Regions from separate parts of the Homo sapiens genome. Here region 1 is linked to region 2. The links come from fine-mapping of genetic effects on gene expression. A gene starts in region 2. The other region holds a variant in brackets. All regions are shown on one strand. Distances are between the middles of the regions. Region 1 has its middle 80 kb from the start of NOS1. Region 2 holds the start of NOS1 (nitric oxide synthase 1).

Region 1 (2,799 bases), 80 kb before region 2:
GTCCATTAAACCTCTTTCCTTTCTAAATTACCCAGTCTCGGGTATGTCTTTATGAGCAGTGTGAGAACAGACTAATACCCCGTCTCTAAAAAATAAAAATGAAATTCCAATCGTGAGACGGTAGACTTCACGAAGGCAGAAATTTTTATCAGTCTTGATCACTACTATATCCCCAGTGCCTAGGAGACAGCACATAGTAGGTGCTCAGGATATATTTGTTGAATGAAGAGACAAATGAATAAAATGGCAGGGCTACTTGTTGTCAAAGTCTCATGTGGTCAAAGCCAGAAAGAACATTCTGATCTGTGCATATATGAATATAAGAAATATTTGCCGACTGCTATGTGATGTGCTCTGTGCCACACACTGGAGGTATGATGGTGTAAACAAGACCCAGAAGGTAGAGCTCAGTCTGGTGGATACATCTGACAGATGAACAGGCAATTCTGGAGTCCCCTTTATAGCATCCTGCTGGAGTTATTTAATTGATGAGAAGCTCATTCGCTCACAAGGCAGCATACTCTGTGATTCTTATAAGAATATTCTTAGCCAGGCGTGGTGGCTTATGCCTGTATTCCCAGTACTTTGGGAGGCTGAGGCAGGTGGATCACCTGAGGTCAGGAGTTTGAGACCAGCCTGGCCAACATGGCAAAACCCCGTCTCTATGAAAAATACAAAAAAATTAGCCAGGCATGGTGGTGCATGCCTGTAATCCCAGCTACTCGGGAGGTTGAGGCTGGAGAATTGCTTGAACCTGGGAGACAGAGGTGGCAGTGAGCAGAGATCGTGCCACTGCACTCCAGCCTGGGCAACAGAGCGAGACTCCTTCTAAAAAAAATTATCTTTACTAGAGACAGCCACCACCACCAGGGTGCAGTCACCTGAGCTTAGAGCCCTTCCCTTGTCATCTCAAAGCCCCACTCTGTCCCCCAGGCACCTGCCCTATGCCTGGCTTGGGAGGGCCCCATGGCTAACAGCCCAGCCAGCTGCTTGCTCCCTTCTCATCTCTGCTTGACAAGCCAGGCTGGCTGAGTCACAGGCTCAGCTTCTCCCAACCCACGTGGGGTCTGGGTCTATGCCAGGGGGATGAGCGCCTGCCAGAGTGCCCGCAAGTCAGACCAAAAAGAGCCCATGAGCTTCACTGAGGATCAGACCTAAGAACATTCTGGAATCCCATGCTCTAGCTTGGAGCTCCCAGAGGGCCAGATGGCAGCAGACAGGTATGTAATTCTACCAGTGAGAAAACCAGGGCATCCAATGTGTTGGGGAGAACCTGCATTGCCTGAGAATAGTAATATAATAATTATTATTGTTATATGTTGTCATGGCTAATTATTGCTATTTATTGTCACGGTTAATTATTAAAGTGGACAGCCATGTCTGCATTGGTCACTGCTATATCCCCAATGCTTAGAAGGGTACCTGGCACATA[A/G]TAGGTGCTCAGTGAGTTCTTCTGTGGAATAAATGCGTGAACAACAACAATAATAGCTACTTCTATTTGCTGAGCACATAACACAAGGAATTAATATTTATTTTTGTGGGGGTTTTACATTTGTCTGTCTCCACCACAGGGGCATGAGTGACTGACTTTGGTTTTTTGGGGTTTTTTTTGTTTGTGTGTTTGTTTTTTGAGACGGAGTTTCACTCTTGTTGCCCAGGCTGGAGTGCAACGGCATGTTCTTGGCTCAGTGCAACCTCCACCTCTCAGGTTCAAGTGATTCTCCTGCCTCAGCCTCTTGAGTAGCTGGGATTACAGGTGCCCACCACCATGTCCGGCTAATTTTTTTGTATTTTTAGTAGAGATAGGGTTTCACCATCTTGGCCAGGCTGGTCTCGAGCTCCTGTCCTCAGGTGATCTGCCCGCCTCTGCCTCCCAAAGTGTGTGAGCCACCGCACCTGGCCAACTGACTGTTTTTACAAGAATATTGTTCCTGTAAAAATTATATCCCCAGCACAGTGACCCATGTCTCGTAGGTGCTCAATAAATGTTGTTGAATAAAAAGGCAGGTGCTGAGTATTATCTCATTTATTTTCACGCAGCCCAGGCAGGGTGGGAGCGCCCGGGAGCACATTTTTAGAAAGGAGAAATTGAGACTAGAGAGTAAAATGACTTCTGAAGGTCACGCAGTTTGTGAGACTCAAATCAGAGCCAGGATCTGAACCCTGTGCACTTGCGGAACCTGTGTACTCCTCACTGCTGAGTCCCGCTGCTGGCAGTAAAGACAAAGAACAGGGTTGGGGGCCTTTGGCAAGGGCTCCCAGGGCAGAGTGGGGCTACTTTGGTACTCCCTCATCCTGCCCTGTGAACCCAAGTCACAAAGCCTTTTCCATGTGATGTCCCATTTGGGGTTCACAGCAGCTGCAGCCAAGCCCAGAGAGGTGGAGTAACTTGCTCAAGGTCACACAGCAAGTTGGGCACAGGTTTTCTGACTCTATGTCCAGTGCTCTTTCTCCTAAACCCCAAACTGTGGCTCAAACCTGGAGCCCTAATATAAGCAGGAACACATGTGAGTCAGGGAAGAAGGCTTGTATTTTAGCAGTGGACTTTACTTTCCCTGGCAACCTGCCCCAACACACCTGGTGGCAAATCCACGTTCCGTACTTTGCTGTGTGACTTTGAAAACTGGCATCCCCTCTCTAAGCCTCAATTTCCTCATCTCAAAAATGGGGATGACATTATCTATATTGCAGGTGGCCATGAAAATCCCTGACTCAATGTCAGATACAGCTGAATGTGTGTTCTGGCTCTTCTACTGTGTGACCTTGGAGAAGAAGCTTAGCTTCTCTGAGTCTCCGTTT
Region 2 (2,799 bases):
CCCCTGCTGGATGTGCAAGACGATCTGAAAAGCATTTATTAGTGACAAAGGGGGTGGTGGTTTTCCTCTTTGCCTCTTCTCTGCGCAACTCGAAGCCTGAGTGGGTTTGCTCCGCTTGGCAAGGCTGGGGAGGAGGAAAAGATCAAATCACCCAGAGCCAGGTGCCAAGTGTGTGTGTGTGTGTGTTTGTGTGTGTGTATGTGCGCGTGTGCGCGTGCGCGTGTGTGTGTCCTCTCTTTCCTTGATTTTCCCCCGTTTTCCCAAGACTGTGTGAGCAGCAGCAACAGCAACGGGGAGATGCAAAATCCTTTGCAATCTGCCCAGGAAAAGACAGATTTTGAGTCGGGTTTATATGGTTACCCATATGTTAGGGCCCCTAAGAAAGGAAGGGAAGCTGCGTTCTCTGTGTCTTCCCTCCTCCAGCCCAGACCTTGGCCTCTCCACACCTGTGGGGCTCCCAGGCCACAGATGAACATGTGCCCTCCATCCTTCACTCTCCCCAGATGCCAGGCCTGAGTGTGGCTCCAGAAAAGACCAGAACCAGGCAACATTTCCTGAACAGGCTGCTTTTCTCCGTCTGTCCACCCGAGAGCCAAGGCCAGAACCCAGGCTGCAACCTCTGCGGGCTCCTGGGAGGGGCTCCCAGCACTGCCCAGCCTGGGAGGCTGTGTGTTCCACTGTCCCATTAAGGAATGCTATCCCAACACTGATGTAGAGGCAGAAATAACCATCCCTGCCTCCCATGGGGCCTTCTCTGCCCAAATAGACCTGCCCTGCCCTGCGTGGCTACTACATTCAGCCCTATCCAGGCTCCCAGAAATTGTCATTGTGTGTGTGTGTGTGTGTGTGTGTGTGTGTGTATGTGTGTGTGTGTGTGTGTGTGTGTGTTTCCTGATAGAAAAAAAAAAATGGAAATTAGGTTATATAAAAGATGTATGCTTTGGAGCCCAGAGCGGCTCTTTTAATGAGGGTTGCGACGTCTCCCTCCCCACACCCATAAACCAGTCGGGTTGGACGTCACTGCTAATTCGTTTCAGTGATGATAGGATAAAGGAGGGACATTAAGAAATAAATTCCCCCTCACGACCCTCGCTGAGCTCACGGCTCAGTCCCTACATATTTATGCCGCGTTTCCAGCCGCTGGGTGAGGAGCTACTTAGCGCCGCGGCTCCTCCGAGGGGCGGCCGGGCAGCGAGCAGCGGCCGAGCGGACGGGGTGAGCCAGGGGCGCGCGCGGGGCGCCCAGCACTGCGCCGGGGAAGCCCGCAGCCTCCGTCCCGAACTTGGGTTCGCTGAGGCTGAGGGAGGGGACGCAAGGGGAGGGAAGAAGAGAAGGGAGGAGTGGGGGCTAGGGGAGAGGGGGTGGGGAGGGATCTTGGAGGCACAAAGCGGAGGGGAAGGGGAGGGACGCGCGCGGCTCCTACCAGGAGGCGAGTGGGTGCAACCGGCGCCCTCCAGCCGCGCGGGGCGGCGGACTCGGAGGATTCAGAACCCGGAGCGCGGCGGCCGCGGGCGCCCGGGAGGAAGAGGAGGAGTACGAGGCGGGCGGGCGGGTGCGCAGCGCGAAGAGGCAGCCTCGGCGCTGCCCGGCTCGGCGTCAGGTGAGTTCCTGATCCAGGCGTCCCGCGCCCCTTCTCCGTCCCCAGGGCTCCCCGCTCCCGCCCGAGCCCCTGGTGTGCGCGGAAGGCTCGGGCTTTGCTGCGCGTCCCAACTTGGTTCGGGCGGCCTCATTTTCCTCCTAGCGGGCGGCCTCAGGCCGGGGGCTCCGGTCCGGGGGTCTACGCGCCCAGGCTCCAACTTTGCAAGACCCTAGTCGTTCCTCAGCCGCGCGCTTGGCTCCGAGCTGTGCGCTGGCGGTAATGGCGGAGCCCTTGGCACAGCTCGCTACCCTCCCGCGGGCAGCCCGGGCTGGGGGATGCCAGTCCCTGGGGACCGTTGTACCTGCCCAAGCTCAACTTTACGCCTTCCTCGGTGCCCGACTCTGCGGCCGAATCGCAACTGCGAGCCGCAGGTAATGGCGGAGTCTTTGGCACTGCCAGCTGTCCGCGGCTGGGGGCCCGAGGCTGGGAGGGCTCCGCTCCCGGAACATCGCTCCGGCCTGGCCTCCAACTTTGCGAGGAGCCTCCTTGCGCTCTCCTCCCGCGGTCATGGCGGGGCCGCCCGCACCTCTCACTTCTTCCGTCTGGGCGAGATTGGGGTGTAAGAGCGCCGTCTCCAAAACCTGGGAAAGTTGTGCTTCTCCCGCAAAGGAGGCTCTAGGGAGGCCGAGGGGCGCGTTCCGCCACGGTTCGGGGCTGGGCAGTGGAAGGAGCGCTCGATGAGGTTGCTTCCAGGTGGCCAGGGTTCGGAGCAGGGTCCCCGGGGGATCCAACTTCCAGGGCCACTCAGGGGCCTTGCGTCCGAGGTCCCGGAAGGGGCTCTCTCGGGACTGCGCCCCAGAGGACGCCAGACGCTCGCCCCCACCCCCAGGGCACTGTGACCAGAGAGCTCATGGCTCTCCAAGCTCCGCATCAGGCTGTCTGGGGTAGACATCTAGAGAGGAGAGGCTCTCACGGAGAAGGCAGCCGAGGAGGGCAGGAACCTTTCCAGTGACTCCCCTGGGTTCTGGTCCTAGATCGACCCTTTACTTGTTGCGTGACCTTCGGTAAGTCTCTTCATCTTTCCCAGCCTCAGTTTCTCATCTGTAAAATGGAGAAACTACCTTTTTCGTGGGGCTGTCATGAGGACCTTAAAAAATCATAAATGTGAATATGAAGTCAGGGTAAGCGTTCATAACGCAGGAAGTGTTGCTGATATATAT

Evidence for each region. PIP is the estimated chance that this variant, and not a neighbour inherited with it, causes the effect.
Region 1: its variant is the best candidate, but not a certain one, in a credible set for the expression of NOS1 in skeletal muscle (GTEx, PIP 0.60).

What each region holds. Positions count from the first base shown.
Region 1 is chr12:117,440,153-117,442,951 of GRCh38, reverse strand. No RefSeq gene overlaps it. Among named protein-coding and RNA genes, the nearest start is that of NOS1, 80 kb to the right of the region's middle. The variant A/G (reference allele first, on the strand shown) is at 1,433.
Region 2 is chr12:117,359,928-117,362,726 of GRCh38, reverse strand. It overlaps NOS1 (nitric oxide synthase 1), which reads left to right and starts at 1,101. Exons shown (of 29, transcript NM_000620.5): 1 at 1,101-1,215. RefSeq lists promoters at 55-976, 1,143-1,215, 1,440-1,600, 1-1,600.